Regions from separate parts of the Homo sapiens genome. Here region 1 is linked to region 2. Evidence: fine-mapped expression QTL. A gene starts in region 2. The other region holds a variant in brackets. All regions are shown on one strand. Distances are from middle to middle.

What was found. PIP is the estimated chance that this variant, and not a neighbour inherited with it, causes the effect.
Region 1: its variant is fine-mapped to the expression of PDGFA in unexposed skin (GTEx, PIP 0.98). The same link has a PIP of 0.9 or more in sun-exposed skin.

The regions. Positions count from the first base shown.
Region 1 is chr7:481,276-489,599 of GRCh38, forward strand. No RefSeq gene overlaps it. Among named protein-coding and RNA genes, the nearest start is that of PDGFA, 34 kb to the right of the region's middle. The variant T/C (reference allele first, on the strand shown) is at 4,317.
Region 2 is chr7:515,466-523,789 of GRCh38, forward strand. PDGFA (platelet derived growth factor subunit A) reads right to left here and starts at 4,381. Exons shown (of 6, transcript NM_033023.5): 1 at 3,474-4,381; 2 at 1,929-2,025. The coding sequence starts at 3,536. PDGFA-DT (PDGFA divergent transcript) reads left to right here and starts at 4,926. Exons shown (of 3, transcript NR_033963.1): 1 at 4,926-7,851. RefSeq lists enhancers at 157-658, 1,328-2,250, 3,173-4,094, 5,939-6,860 and silencers at 1,408-1,507, 3,351-3,440, 3,901-4,040, 4,321-4,410, 4,511-4,850 and 3 more.

The sequences.
Region 1 (8,324 bases), 34 kb before region 2:
GAGCTGGGGACAGGTTCCCTGGGGCTGCAGGAGCTCCAGAGGAAGGCCGAGGTGGGGCCAGCCCGGCAGGACACAGGTACCTGGTCCCGCTAATTAATTGCTTCCAGCAGGCTCTGAAGAGCAGCTGGGCCCAGGAATGCCCCCTCCAGTGAAGACCGACTCTGTCTAACTTGTGAAGGTTTGGATACTGACGGCGAACCGCTCTTAATAAATCTCTCTCTCCTTCTCATGCGCAGCTCATCTGCAGGGCTTGGTGCCTCTGGGGGGCCAGGACGGTGGGCAGCCCTCCTCCCGTCCCCACACTCCTCCCCTCCCCACCCTCCTCCCTCCCTTCCCGCCCTCCTCCTGTCCCCACCCTCCTCCCCTCCCCAACCTCCTCCCCTCCCCACCCTCCCCTCCCCACCGCTGGGGCTGGTCCTGCTTCTTAGTGCCCTCCTGCCTTGAATGAGCACAACCCATGCGGTGGTCCTCCTGCGTGCCACCTTCTCTGTGCTTCACCTGCATCCCTTGCTGGTCCTTGGGTTCAATAACACTGTGGGGAGTCTCCAGAGATCCCACTAGACCAGATCAGGGGCCCTTATGGACCCTCCCCACCCACCTGAGAGGCAGAATAGCCTAGAGATTAAAAACTCAGAAGGGCCAAGTTCACATTCTGACTCCTCCACTTACAAGATTTGGTGTAAGATCCTTCCTGAGCCTGTGCCTCAACTTCTCCATTTTTGAAGCATAGGTCTCTGGCAGCACCTACCCATGGGTGGTTGTGAGAATTAAAACCTAAAGCATCTAACACCCCATCTGCCCCCAAGCAGCACTAGTCACTGCTGTCATTTCCTTCAGGCACTTACTTCAGTCTACGATTATGTTCCTTTTTGTGTATGATTAATGTCTAAATTTCCCTCTTAATGGTTAGCTCCAGGAAGGCAAGAAATTCATGGTGTCTGGCAGAGTGACAGGTCCCTGTTAGGTGCTCAAGAACTTATGTTGTATGGATGGATGGATGGATGGATGGATGGATGGATGGATGGTTGGATGGAGGACAGTTGGATGGATAGATGGATGGATAGATGGATGAATGGGTGGATGGATGGATGGATAGGTGGATTGGTGGATAGTTGTATGAATAATAGACGGCTGAACAGATTGATGGTTGGATAAACGGATGGGTGAATGGGTAGGCAAGTGGGTGGATAGTTGGATGGATGATAGATTGTTAGATAGATGAATGAATGGATGAGTGGATGGAAGGGTGAAAGGGTAAGTAGATGATGGGTAGATGGATGTGTAGGTGAGTGAGTGGATAATTGGATGGACAGATAAATAGGTGGATGGATGGATGGATCAGTAGATAGTTGGATGAATGATTGATGGTTGGAACAGTTGGGTGGATGGGTAGGTGTGTTGATAGTTGGATGGATGATAGATGGTTGGATGGATTGATGGATGGAAGGATGGATGGATGGATGGATGGATGGATGTGTGAATGGATGGATGGGTAAGTGAATGAATGGGTGGATAGTTTGATGGATGGATAGATGATAGATGGATGGATGGTTGAACACATGACTGACTGGATGGAGGGATGGATGGATGGATGGGTAGATCAGTGGATAGTTGAATGAATGATAGATGGTTGGACAGATGGGTGGATGGGTGGGTGGGTGGATACTTGGATGGATGATAGATGGTTGGTTGGACTGATAGATGATGGATGGATGGATGGATGGATGGATGGATGTGTGAGTGAATGGATGGGTAAGTGATGAATGGGTGGATAGTTCGATGGATGGATAGAAGATGGATGGATGGTTGGACACATGACTGGATGGATGGATGGACGGATAGTTGGATGGATGGATAGATAGAGAGATAGATAGATGGATAAGTGGATGGGTGGATGAGAGGATCTAGTACCAGGGGGATGGCTCCACCTTGATATCCAACTGAGGCCCCTGCCAATGGGTCCATCCTGATTTTGAGGAAGAACTTTGGCGGGGACCTGGGCCAGTCCTTGGCCCCCCCACCCGTGGGATATTGGGCGGGCGGGGATAAAGGGACAGCCTCGGTATCATGGACAAAGGGGCTGCACAACATGGGTGGGATGGGAAGACTGGCGGTGAAATACGCGGGTATGGGTTAAAAAATGGATGGATGGATGGATGGATGGATGGATGGATGAGTGGATGGATGGATGGATGGATGGATGGATGGATGGATGAGTGGATGGATGGATGACAGGAACTAGGACCAGGGGGATGGCTCCACCTTGATGTCCAACTGAGGCCCCTGCAATGCGCACCATCTGATTTGAGGAAGTATCTCTGCTGGAACTGGCCAGTACTTGCCCCCTCACTGTGGAATTTGGGCTGAGCCTGGAAAGCTGCTCCAAGCTATTTGCAAAGGGGTTTCCAGCCTTGGATCCCTAAAGGCTGCCAGAGAGAGGCTCCTGTGGTTCCCTGGGACAAGGAGACCTCCTTCATCCTCCATGCCTGTTTCTCAGACAGTGAAGACAAGGCACAAATGTGTGCTTTGGAGGTGGCTGAGGGGCTCAGACACTGCAGTGTGCAGGCGCCTGCCAGGCCTGATGTGGTGATGCTCGCTCAGGGCCTCTAGGGCAACCCAGGGTCATGTTTGATTTGACGAAGGGGTTAAGTGCGCTGCTCTTTAAAAGCCGGAACACAGACAATGTGAAGCTTCCTCCCTCAGACCCACCACATTGGTGGGCTTTACTTCAGCCCTAGGGACTCCTTCTGTCCCCTCACCCCTCTCAACTCCAACCCCCCCTCCCCAGACTGCAGAGAGGGGCCGGTTCTTGCCAGAGTCGCTCTTAGCCGTTTTGTGAAAAATCCATTTATTGTCTTCATTGCTTGGGAAGTTATAATCTTGAGGCTGCAGCTTCCTAAGGCGTTGCCATGGAGATGAATTTTCTGTCATAAATAAAAGTATTCTGGGGTCAGGAGATCTCAAGCATAACTAGGACAGATTTTGAGGGGGAAAATGCAAGAATTTCAGAAGCACATGAGATGATTTGGGCTGCCTTTTCCGGAGGGTGTTTTTTAGGCTGTCCTGAATTTGGCCTCTAGATGTGGGACCGTCCCTCTGCCGTACCCCCAACCCCGTTCCCCCAAGCCGACACTGTGTCTGCCTGCCCCTCCCCTCCTCCACCTGCTCAGGGCCAGAGCCTTGGGGGACCTGGTTTGGAAATCCAGGTTGGGGTGACGTCTGGGGTCACCCAAAGACGGGCTGGCTCCCAGTGTGTCCTCAGACAAGCCTTTCTGTCCCTGGCCCTAGACCCTGCCTGGGTGAGGGCCTCATTCACTCAGCCTAGGATTTTTGGAACATTCCTCACACGCCTCCTACGGGCCAGGGCTCACTCAGGTATTTCCCCTTGGGCTTGGGGCAGGCAGGGGGACACTCCCACTCCCGCATGACCCCTGCTTCCGAGGGCCCTGACCCCACCCCCACTCTTGCTCACTTCCCACCAGCCCCCATGGACATTAGCTTTAGGGATTTCCTTTTGTTCAGGGTCGCTGCAGGTCTGTGTTCGAGAAGGTGGGGGAGGCGGGACTGGAGCCCGGGAGGAAGGTATGCAGGGCTGAGGGGCCTCTGGAAGCCACCCAAGCCGACAGCCTCCGCCAGCAGTCAAGGGCTGTTTGCCAACCCCCATGCACCCCCTCATTAGGTAAACACAGAGTCCTCCATCAGCACAGGGCCCCAGAGCCATCCCTTGCACAGAGGCCCCAGGGTCCCCCGCGCTCGAGGGCCCCCCATGACCCTGGGACTGGGACTGCGGCACCCTGGGCCTCTCCTCCCAGCCCCGAGGCTCTCACTGGAGGACCCATCTTCCAAGGCTGCCACAATCCCAGGAGGCGGCTCCAGCCCCAGTAGCTCCAAAAAAACGAATGGAGAGGTGAGGAGGGAGAGAACAAAAGAAAGGAGGGAATGAAGGAGGGAGGAGGCTACGGGGTGAACCCTTTGCAGTTTGGACCTCAGACTGTGGTCCCCTCACCTACCTCCCCGGACAGCACCACCCTCCCTTCCCACCTTTGATGGGTCCCTGTCCCAGGAGAAAGCCCATAGAGACATCACACGGGAAGATCCTGCAGGAAGCCCTTCCTCCCTTGCAAACACTCGCAAAAAACGGCCCTTGATCATGGAGAAACAGGCTTCCAGGGCCCCCAGGGGCTGGGGTCCACGGTTGCAGGCCAGCAAGCCACAGCTCCCAGGCTGGGGCTCTAGTGAGTCTAGCCTCCCCAAGACCCACTTCTGCCAGGGGTTCTCTGCCTCCTGATAAATAACTGTGACACTATCTGCCCACA[T/C]CCCTTGCTGAGCAGCAAAATCAACACAGGACAGGCTGTGACTCGCCAGGCCACGAGGAGCTGCAGGACGTACACACTGCATCGCCATCTGTGGGGCTTGGACAGCCACAGGAGGGACATGGCCCCAGAAGCCTGGCAGGGCATCCCACTGCGAGGGCCCCTCAGTGCCAGCTCTCGTGGCCTCTCACCAAGTCTGGCCCCAGCCCAGCTTTCCATCGCCACAAGCTTGTGCAGTCCACACCCGCCACCAAGAAGGGCGCTGGGGGTTGGGGCCAATGCCAGGTGGGGCAGGGAGGGGACGCTGTGGGAGGGAGGGGTGGCTGAACAGGATAAGGGCCCTGGAATGCACGGCTCCACCCCTGGATGGCTGTGTCCTCGTCCACAGAACAGGGACAGGGCCGCAGAAGGGCACTGTCAGGAGGCGGGATCCCTGTACCCTGATGACTCCCGGGAAGCGGCAGAAATCACGGTCATGAAGGATTCGTAACCGGGGCAGGGCTCTTCTCAGAGCGGGAGAAACAGACAGCGTCCAAGGAGCACCCCACACTGTCCCAGCTGATAAATGAACACAGCTGCAGACCATAGCAGGGTCCTCAGTGAGTCCGAGCTCTCCTGACTCCGCGTCGGACTGAAGCATCCTCGAGGGTGTCTATATGAGCCTGTGTGTGAGCTTGTGTGTGAATGTGTGCGTGCCTGTGTGTGAATGTGTGTGCCCGTGTGAGCCTATGTGAGCCTGCATGTGAATGTGTATGCCTGTGTGTGAATGCATGTGCTTGTGTGTGAGGCGCGCTTGTGTGTGAGGCATGTGAATATGTGAGCCTGCATGTGCCTGCATGAGCCTGCGTGTGCCTGCGTGAGCCTGCGTGTGACTGTGTATGCCTGTGTGAGCATGTGTGTGCGTGTGACTCCATGAGCCTGTGTGTGAATGTGTGAGCCTGCATGTGAATGCGTGTGCCTACGTGAGAATGCGTGAGCCTGTGTGTGAATGTGTGTCCCTGTGTGTGGACCTGCACGTGAGTGAGTGTGCCTGCATGTGAATGCGTGTGAATGCATGAGCCTGTGTGTGAATGTGTGAACCTGTATGTGAATGTGTGTGCCTGTACGTGAATGTGTGTGGTGCTCCATGTGTTTTTGTGTCTATGTGTTTGTCTCTGTGTGGCTGTAACTTTCTGTGACTCTCCAAAAACCCTGATTCAAAACCAAAGACACCACAGGAAAAGAGGACTACAGAACAATTTCCCACTTAAGCATGGACACAAAAATCCTTAACAAATGATTAACAAGTAGAATCAATATAAAAAGAAACGTATTTAATGACCAAGGTGGGTTAATCTCAGGAATGCAAGGTTAATGTAGCATTTGAAAAACTAATCAATGTAATTCACAATAATAGAATTATGTAAAAAAAAATCACATGGTAATTTTAACAGATGCAGAAACCATACAATGAAATGCAATAGATGCAAAAAAAATGGACACAATTCAACAACTTTTCATGATTTAAGAAAAACAAAAAACCCTCTCAGAAAACTAATAGGAGAAGCAAACCTCCTCAACTTCATTAAAGGCATCTACAAAACAGCTACAGCTAACATCTTACTCAATGTTGAAAGGCTCATTGCTTTCTAGCTAATAACAGGAATAAAGCAAGATTGCCCATTCTATTGTCACTTCTATTTGTTCTGGAGGTCCCAGCCAGTACAACAAGGCAAGAAAAAGAAATAAAAGGCATACAGAATGCAAAAGAAGAAATACAACAGTTCTTATTTCCAGATAACATGATCATGTATGTAGAAAACTCAAAGGAATTTCAAAAGAATTCTACTAAAACTAATAAGTGAATTTAGCAAGGTTGCAGGATCTAAGGACGATATACAAAAACAAATTGAAATTGAACAACTAGACCAAAGATCAACCAGCAAGTAGAAGACCTGGACAACATCATACACCAACTCGATCTTATGTGCATCTACAGAACACTCCATTCAACCATAAAGGTATACACATTCTTTTTCTTTTGGAGATGGAGTCTCGCTCTGTCACCCAGGCTGGAGTGCAGTGGTGCAATCTCAGCTCACTGCAGCCTCCACCTCCCGGGTTCAAGCGATTCTCGTGCCTCAGCCTCCTGAGTAGCTGAGATTACAGGCATGCCCAACCATGCCCGGCTAATTTTTGTATTTTTAGTAGAGACAGGGTTTCACCATGTTGGCCAGGCTGGTTTCAAACTCCTGACTCAAGTGATCCGCCTGCCTTGGCCTCCCAAAGTGCTGGGATTACAGGTGTGAGCCACTGCGCCCATCCAGAAACACACATTCTTTTCAAGTGCACGTGAAACATTCTCCAGGATAGACCATATGTTTGGCCATAAAAGAAGTCTCAATAAATTCAAAATAATGAAAATCATACCAAGTATGTTCTCTGACCATAATGAAATAAAATTAGAAATCATTAATAGATGAAAATTTATGAAATTCACAAATATGTGGAAATTAAACAACACACTCCTACATAACCAATAAGTCAAAGAAGACATCCCAGCGAAAACCAGAAAATACTTTGAGATGAAAGAAAACTCAACTTACCAAAGCTTATGGGATGCAGCTTAAAACAGTGCTTAGAGGGACATTTATAGCTAGAAACTCCTAATTTTTTAAAATAAAAAAGAAAAGACGTCAAATCAATAACTTAATCTTCCATCTTTTAAAAAATGGAAAAAAAAACCAAACCAAACCCAAAACAAGCAGAAAAATGAAATAACAAAGATTAGAGAGCTACTTGAAAGGCTGAGGCAGGAGGATCACGTGAGCCCAGTTCAAGACCAGCCTGGGCAACATAGCAAGACTCTGTCTCAAAAAAAAAAAAATTACGGGGGAAATAAATTTTAAAAATAAAGAGTAGAAAAACAATAGAGAATATTAACAAAACCAAAAGTTGGTTCTTGAAAAAAATAAAATAGACAAAACTTTAGCTACACTGACCAAGAAGTAGACAGAATAATCAAATTACTAAACTCAGGAATGAAAAGAGGGAACATTAGTATCAGCCTTACAGAAATAAAAATAATAAAGGAATGCTGTGAACATTGTGTGCCAAGAAATTAGATAACCTAGATGAAATGAACAAATTCCTAGAATCACAAACTGACTCAAGAAAAAGAGGCCCGAAGAAATATGAAGACTTATAGTAAGCAAAGAGATTGAATTAGTAATCAAAAAACTTCCTACAAAGAAAAGCCCAGGACCAGATGGCTTCACTGGTGAATGCTACCAAATATTTAAAAAGGAATTAACACAAATGCTTCCCAAACTCTTTGAAAAAATAGAAGAGGAAAGAACTCATTCTGTGAAGCCAGTCATAACCTGTCACCAAAACCACACAAAGACATCACAAGAAAACTACAGACTACTATCCCTCATGTATAGACACACAAAATTTCAATAAATAAAAATATTAAATAAATAAAATATTAAAAAGCCAAATCCAGCAACATACAAAAATAATGACTGTGCTCCATGACCAAGTGGGATTTATTCCAGGAATGCAAAGGTGGTTCAACATACAAAAAAAAAATCAGTGTAATATACCATATTAACAGAATAAAAATAAAAATCACATGATCATCTCAACTGATGCAAAAAAAGGACAATCTAATATTTTTTCATAACAAAAATAAATAAACACTCAACAACTAGGAATAGAAGGGAACTTTCTCACCCTAATAAAGGACATCTACATAAAACCCACAGCTAGCTAAGGCAAAAGACTTAGAACTCTTCCCCTAAGATCAGGAGCAAGACAAAGATGTCGGCTTCAGCCACTTCTAGTCAACATTCTACTGGAGGTACTTTCTAGCCAGGGCAATTATAAATGAAAAGAAAACAGTTTTTACAAAGAACAAAGCTGGAGGACTCACAATTTTGGATTTCAAACTTACCACAATGTCAGTAATGAAGACCCAAGGCATAGGGAGAGACATATAGATCAATGAAATAGAACTGAGAGTTCATT
Region 2 (8,324 bases):
GTTTCTCTGGTTCTGTTTTCAGCCACACCTGGGGAGGGGACTGGACAGGACCAAGGAGGCCCCCCTATGTTACAAAAGGTCCCCCACCAGGGGCAAGAGAGGAGGTAGATGCCACCCCCATATTCTCACACACAAAGCCTCCCAGACACTAGGAGAATCCTATTCAGACCCCAAAACCTCTCACGGACACAGGAGGGCTGAGATCCACTCTGCATTCCCTGGGGCAGGAGGAGAGAGCTCCTGGGACATGACTGCAGAGGGAATTTGAAACCGGCCAGGACTAGCTTAGGGGCATCCTTGTTTTTTTCTGTTCGGACCCTACGACCTAGAAGCCCCCGGGTGAGGAATGCCATCAGCATACCCCACGAAGCTGCAATGCTAAAGGCGATAATGGGTGGGGGTGGAGGAGGCGGGGCGCCAAGACCAGAATAAGAATAGTCCCAGCAGAAAGTGAATGGCCCATTTCCCTGCAGCTTCCAAAGCCAGTCCCACGAGGAGGCCCAGCTCTCCACAAGCCTCCCCTTCTGCTAGCACCCCCCCCCAGAAAAAGCCCTGAAACCTTCTCCAGGAAGCAGCCCCCCCCCCCCACTTTTCCAAACCCATCCAGGACCAGCGAGATTCAGGCAAGGGATTCCCCCCCACAAACCAGAGCCAGATCCTTTTCCCTAGAGTTATCCACTGAGGGATCCGGTCAAAATCCCCCCGCCCAGCTGTGCTGTGGGAGTGAAACTCTACCGCACCCCCCACCCTCCGCCCCCGATAAGGATCAGCCCAGGGATTTCCTGGGTCAAGAAACTACAGAAACCATCGGCCTTGTTAGAAAATGGTTTTGGCATGAAACGAAAATAGTTCAGGCCTCTCCACCACCATAATTAGGTACAAATTTCCAAATGACTAGACCATGTGATTTCACTTAATCCCCGCATGCCCCCCCTTTTTCAGAGTCCTTTGCAGGGAGAGAAGAATCTTCATGTCACGTAACTTCTTCCAATTCTGCTGCCTTTAGTTACTCTTTTTAACAAGTTCATCGCAGAGCCCCTTTTTAAACCAGGTTAAGGCTCCGACTGGAGTTCCCAGGCCGAGTGCTCATTTTGAAAAGAGCGCCACGCACGCCTGGAAGAGAGACCTCGCCTTCTAGGAAGGGGCTCTCTAGCCCTGAGCGGGCGGGCGGCCACCCTACACCCTCGCCCCTCCCACCCACCCGTGGTCCACCGGGGTCCCCCGGGGTGAGAGGCCCCTTTAACCCTTGCCAACCCGCAGCAAAACTCTGTGCTTGCAAACAAGCTGTGTTCTCTAGTGGCCCGGCCCCAGGGCCCGAGGGTGAGCCGCAAAAATAGCCCCCAGGCAGCAGATGCGTCCAAGGCTTTTCATTGGGTCGTGAAAACAGAAAGACACCGGCTTCTGCAGCCACAGAGGCCCAGCCCTGCGGCAAGAACGCGGCACCAGCTCGCAGGGATTACAGAGGGGGCCGGGCCCTGACCCGGGGGCCGCCTCCGCCCGCCCGCCCGTCGGACCGGGAGCCGCGCCTGCCCTTGGGGCCTCGCTCCGCGGGCTGCCCGCCCGGCGCACGGGCCAGGGCTCTGCGCCCAGGGTCTGGGCCGGATCCTGCCGCTCCCCCGGCCCGAGGGCAGGCGCGGGGCCCGCACACCTGGCGGAGGCCGCGGCTGAACTTTGTGTGACACACGCGGCGTTTTCCTTAAAGGCGAAAACAATCCCGGGGCGAGCGAGCAGCCCTCGGCCGCCGCTGGGAGAGAAAGTGGAGACTGGAAGAGAAACTCCTGACTCATCCGCCCGGGCGCTTATGGCTGGGGATTGGATTCTGACCTTTCGGTGCGCTCCTGCGCGGCGCCCCGCCCGGCCCCAGCTCGGGGCGCACAGGCCGCCCGCCCGCGCCCTCCCCGCGCGCGGAGGGAAGGGGCGCGATTTACCTACGGAGTCTATCTCCAGGAGTCGCTGGAGGTCCCGGATGCTGTGGATCTGACTGCGGGCCAGCCTCTCGATCACCTCGCGGGGGATCTCGGCTTCCTGCAAGCAGAGGCCACACGGTCAGCGCCCGCGGCCCCGACCCCGCCGGCACGCGCCCCCGGCCGCCAGGAGCGCCGCCGCCCCGGGCCCGAGGAGACCCCGCGAGCGCCGGCCGCAGTCCCCGCCCCAGCCCCCGCGGAGCCCTCGCCCCGGCCCTGGAACCAGAAGCCGGGGGTGGGGCTGGAAGAGACCCCAAATTCTCCACCCGCATCCATGTTCCGCCCTTTGCAAAATCAAAGCCCCCCCCCCTTTATATTTTCAGACAAAAGCCCCCGCACTCCGGCCCCTCCACCCGGGGTGTCAGTTACAGAAGGTCTAGGGGGCAGCGAGGGGGCCGAAAGTTTCTGATTTAATAGTGAGATCAACATCTAGAAAGATCAAGTTAAAATGCGTCACGGGTCGGCGAGAGTCACGGCAGCCCTAACACTTTAATCCAGGCAGGGCTTAAATTTCACGCCCCGGAATCCCGGGCCGAACCCGTGGAGAGGTCTCTCCGTCTCACAAACACACGCACGCGCGCGCAGACACACACACGCGCACACACATCTCACTCACACACTCGCCCCACCCCGGGCTCCGGCCCAGCCGCGGCCCTAGCGCCGACTAAGACGCCCAAATCCAGCCGGCGGCCGGGAGAAGAAGCCTCCAGGGAAAGCGAGGGTTAAACTTCCACCTCGCGCAGCTCTCCGTGCCCTGCGGAGACCACCCTCACCTCTGGCCTCCCCCACTCCCCTCCCCGATTTTTAAGGAGAGTCGGGGGTCGCTGGGGAGCCTGAAGCACTAAGTTCCCACGACGGGGGCTGTGGAAAGTCATTCATCACAGCAAAGCTCCCGGGGATGGGGATGGGGATGGGGATGGGGGGGCGGGGACGCCGCGGTGGGAGGGTGCGGACGCCTGGCCCAGCCCCAGCTCGCCTCGCTCAGCCACCTGTAAGCAGGCCCGGGCGGGCGGGACTGCGCCGGCCCTGAGCCCCGCCGGGCTTGGGGACTGGGAACCGAGGGCTGCAGCTTGGCGCTGCCCACCCTGCCCGGCCAGGGGCTTCCGCAGCAGCCGCCCCTACCTATTTATCCGCCGCCCTTCTCTCCTCCCCAGGCTCCGCCGGCTCACACACACCCCCTTCCCCGCTCCCCGCACCCCGCTGCTGCAGCGCCCGCTGCGCCCCAGCTCCCCTTCCCCGGAGAGGACACTGCGCCCCCCGAAGTTTCTGCCCACTCGTCCACCTCGCTGCTCCCCGGTCCCCCCGAGGCAGAGCGACCGACGCAACACGCTGGAAACTCCCCACACACACTTAGGCATGGCAGAAAATAGAACCCAGTTGGGAAAATCTAAACATCGACCACCCTGGCAGGAACCAAAACGCTCTCTGCAGAGCCCGTGGCGCCCCAGCCGGCGGGGGGTGTGCGCCGGAGGAGCCGGCGCAGGGACGGGGCGCGGGGGCGGCACCAACCTCGGCCAGAACATGGGCGAGGTATCCGCAGCCGAGGAGCAGCAGGCAAGCCAAGGTCCTCATCGCGTCCCGAGGCGCTGGCTGCTCGGAGGAGAGGCGAGGCCGCGGGGCGGGCGCTCCAGCCGGTCTCCTGTGGCGGCGAAATTCAGTACCATCCCTTAGGGAGCGCGGCCCGGAGGAGGGTGGCGCGGGGAGCACGGAGCTGGCGGAGCGCGCCCGGCGCGAGCAGTGAGTGCGGAGAGGCAGGCAGCGCCAGCCAGGAGGAGGAGAAACAGGGAGTGCGCGCCCGCAGCGCGGGGAGCCTCCTGGGCCGCCGGGTAGGGGGTGGGGACGGAAGGGGCGGAGGGCGGGGGCTGGGCTTCTTCCTCGGTGCGTTCCCGGTGCTGGCCGCCGCCGCGCTCGCTCCCCGCGCTGGCTTCAGGAGCGACCCGGCCGGTAATTCTGCATATTTGCGGACATCAGCCCCAAGAAGAACTCCGGAGGGAGTCTGGGGCCGCCGCCGCCGCCGCCGCCACACCGATCACCTGCCTGGACGCCTGGCCCGGCCCCGGCTGCGAGCTGCGAGCCGCCCTGCGCGCCCACCGCCGGCCCCGCGCTCGCCTCCGGCCTCCTCTTGCAGCCGCCGCCCGGCCGGGCACAGCGCGGCCCAGCACCCCCTCCGCGGCGCGCCCTCGGCTCCGGCGCCGCGCTCCGCCCTCCGCTCGCCGGGGCCGGGCAGCGCCCGCGGCCGAGCCGCCTGGCAGCCACCACCCGCCGCCCGGGGCCTCGCTGCGCCGCCCGCGCGGGCCTGAGGGCGGGCGCAAGGCCGAGTCGGCGCCTCCGCCGCAGCCGCCGCCGGGAGAGGAGGAGGAGGAGTAGGCGCAGGCCCGGCTCGCCGGAGTTGGGCGGGCTCCGCAGGGCGCGCGTGTGGAGCCGGCCGGCGGCGGGGAGAGGGTTATAGCGCCGCCGCCGCGCCCCTCCCCCGCCCCCGCCCCCGCCCCCCCCCCCCGCCTCCCCCGGATTCCGGGCCTGGGACCCGCACCTCGGAAGCGCTCGGGGTTCGTGCGGACCCGGCAGGGCCCGGGCGCCGCCGCCGCGGCAGGGAGCACACACGCGCTCGCGCAAGCAGCTAAATCCATCAAAGCCCCGCGCCCGGCTCCGCGCCGGGGCTCCGCGCCCCTCCCTCGAGCTTGCCCACCCTCCAGTGCCAGCTGCAATCCTGCGGCACCGGGTGGGGAGGGAGGAGGCCGCCGCAGAAGCGCCGCCGTCGCCGGCTCGCCTCTCTCGGGCCCCAGCGGCGGCAGCGGGCAGCGCCCAGAGCTGCTGCGCCAAAAAGGGCCAGAGAGCCGGTCCCCGCCCCCGCCCCGGCGCTCCGGCCGCTCTCCACGGTTCGGATCCAGGGCCCCAGCCTTCCTCTCTCCATAAAAGGAGGGGGAGTCAGTCTTTGGGGAAGGAGGGGGGCGGGTTTGGGGCACTCACCTGGCGGCTGCCACGCGCCCCCGCCCAGGATCCGAGGCCTGGGGCATCTGAATGAGGACCCTCCACCCACATTTCCACTTGGGAGCGAGCTCCAGTCGGGGAAAGGGCCTGCAGCCCGCCTCGTCCCCACCCTGGGACCCCGCGCCCCCCAGTCCCCCACTCCCGCGCCGAAGGCAGGGCCGCGCCCTGAGCCGGGAAGTCGAGGGGATGGAAGGGAAAGGAGCCACCGGTGAGGGTCCCCCGGGTTCTGAGCCTCCCGCGTCGGGATCCGTGGGGCGCACAGAGCGCCACCTCCGGCCGAGGCGCAGCTCAGAGCGCGATGCGGGGGAGGAACGCGCGCGGAGGCCGAGGTCTGAGCGTGGCTAGACGGCTCCCACGCCGAGAAAGGGCGGGTGCGCCTGGGCTGGATGGATTTCGCCTCCCTAGACCAGGAGGGATTGGACCCTGACTACAGGTCCAGGTGCTCGTCAGTGCCCTGCCAGGGGGTCTACGCGTCCTGGTACCGGGTCCAGCGGGGTGGCGTGCTGTGCAGACCCCGAGGCTAGACGGCCTAGGCCCCTGGAGCCCAGGAGACGCTTCCTTGGGTGAGCAGCGGAGAATCCCGCCCGGCCCAGCCGTCACCCCCAACCCTGTCGATTAAACCCCTGCCCCCGTCGCGGTCGCCCTCCCTCCAGACAAAGGCCGTTAAGGCGCAGCCCCGCGGGCGGTCTTTCATCCCCAGCTAGGCCAGCTCTAGCATTTCAAAGGCCGAATCCGGAGAGCGCTTCGGGGGCTCTCCCCTTCCCCCAAATATTTGGGGAGCGACGCCTCTCCCTCCGCTCCCAGTGGGTCGCGTCTACACGCGCCCTTCCACACACCTGCAGGCCCCCTCCCCACGTCTCTCCCTTCCGTTGGCCGCAGCCCCACACCACGACCCCCGCGGTCAAGCATGCCCTCTGGGTGGTCAGGACCAAGCGGGACCGGGACAGAACCAGGGGAGCCTTGGAAACGTGGAGGAGCCCCTTAAAGCCAGGCCTTGTCCCTCCAGGGGGAACTTGCGGCTTGGGAGGGGACACCCACTGCATGGCTTCTGGAAAGAGCCGGACTCGCAGGGCCAGGACGCAGGCCGGACCCCGGCCTCATTCTTCGGCCAGTTATCCCGGAGTGGCGCGCATCCTGTCTTCCTGGGCCTCGGACTGCTCGCGCGCAGAGGGGGCCCGAGGACACCTCTGTGGGGTTAGAGGACTCGGTAAGACGGTGTGGAAGGCAAGGAGGAAGGTCGCGTTGTATTGGGGATGGGGTACCCGTCCCTCCCAGCTTGAGGGATCCTGGGGGTCCTCGCCGCCTCTGAGGGCCTAGATGGCTGCTTCCCTCGGCTCCCCTGCCCGGCCTGGAGCTACGGGTGCGCCCAGCTAGAGTTTAGGGCCACCTGGGGACGTGCAAGGGGCGCTGGAGCGAGGCGGGGGCTGGGGCGGGGCGTGGGTGCTTCACCCGCGGGGGACGCAGAGCTTAGGCGAAAGCGGTGCAGGCATCTCTCTAATCGCCGGCCGCTATTAAAAATAAAACCGCGACCCGTCGCCATGGCGACCACAACAACAGCGGCCGCGCGAGGGAGGCGAAAACTTGTGCAGCCGCGCGACAGCCGCCTTCTGGGGAGACTCGGGGCACGACGCACCCGGCGTGGGACTGGGACCCCCCTGCCCGGCCCCGCCACATTCTCCGCCGGATCCCCGGAAGACACAAGGAGACGTGGACCCCCACAGGCTTTTTTGGGGGGATTGGGCGTTGAAACCGCAGGGCTGACTTAACCAAGAGGTCACCGACTTGGATAAAAAACCCACGCCCGCGCGGACCCCCCTCCCCGGCCTTCGTTTCCATTCAAACTCCCAGCGTCCTCATTGCAGCCCCTGGGGAGGGGGACGGAGGGACGAGGTGGGTTTCAGGTGCTCGGCCCAGGAGGGGACGGTGCGACCCGGGCCCCGCCGGCGGGTTTTGCGCGCGGAGGCTGCGGCACCTGCCCCGCCCGCCCTGCCGCGATCCTTGCAGACGGGGGCGGTCACATGCTTCTTTCTGGCCAGGAATCGAGTTTCACTTCCAGCCGCTATTAGTCGGTTCACACAGTTCACTGCAAACATTTGATAATGAGGCTAAATATACTCCCGCGTCGGAGGAGGCGTGGGCGTCCCCGCCCAGGCCCGGGAGACAGAGGCGCTGACCCCGGGACAGAGCCTGGCTTTGTGCGGGAGGCAGACGCGCCCCGCGCGCCGCCCCCGAAACATTCGCACCCCATGCTGAGGCGCGCGTCTGGGAGTCCGTGGGCGCCCCGAGGTGAGCCCGGGGCCCCTGGCGGAAGCAGCGGGGAGCTCCCGGCGGGTGCGGGGAGGTGCTGGTGGGAAGCAAGGTGCACCTGGCGGCCTGGGATGTCCGGTCGCCCCCGGAGCCGGTGCATCCGGCCTCTCCCGGCGCGCCCCGACGTGCCCGCGGGCTCATAATTACCGTGAGTCAGGTGCCCCAAATAGGCCGAGCGAGGGGGGCCGTCGCGCAGCAGGGGCGGGTGGCCGGACGTCTGCCCGGGACTGGTTGCCTCCCGCCCCTCCCCAAGACCCTGGCACCCAGGGAGGGCGGGAAAGGCCTTGGCCATTCCTCTGGGTAGGGGACTGGAGAGGGGAAGAAACTTTCGCCGAGTCCAGCGCTGCCCCCTCATACCCATCCCCACCCAGGCTGCGTGTCCGGGGCCCCTCCGGGGCTTGGCACCAGCAGGCACGCAGCGATCGCCGTCGTTGTTATTTAGTAGTAGTAGTAACGGCTGACATTTACAGCGACGTCGATGGCGCCAGGTGCCAAGCTCTTTCCTTGTATAATTTCATGGACACTCACGCATCAACTCTAAGCGAAGACTTGGAGCGGGGCTCAGCACCCCAGGGGTACCTCTGCAACCTCGGTAAATATAGACTATCCTCAATTCGCAGGGGCATTTGTACGTGGGGTGTACAGGCAGGAACAGGAAAGACGCTGTGGCCACCCAGGAGTAGGGGCGGCAGCCAACACCCCCTGGATCCCCAGTTCCAAGGTGCAGGGAGGGGGGCAGAGGCCAGTTCCCTCCGCTCTCTGCCCCTTGACCTTGGCCTTGGTGAGCTCTGTCCCTAGACTGCCCTGGGTGTCTGTTCCCTCATCTGAAAAGCGTGAGGCCCACAGCCGTCACTGCACACAGCTGCCGTCACTGCACACAGCTGCCTCCACTGTCGGGAAGCCTCCCTCCTGCCCACCTGCCCAGGAAAAGCTGCGCTAGCGTGCCCTGGGCAAGCGCCCTGCTGGCCACCTGCCTGCACCTGGGTTGGGGGTGGGGGGACCAGCTGAGCACCCAAATCCTGGCCTCTGCCCCCAGCGCCAGAGCAGATTTCAGAACAATTTGTA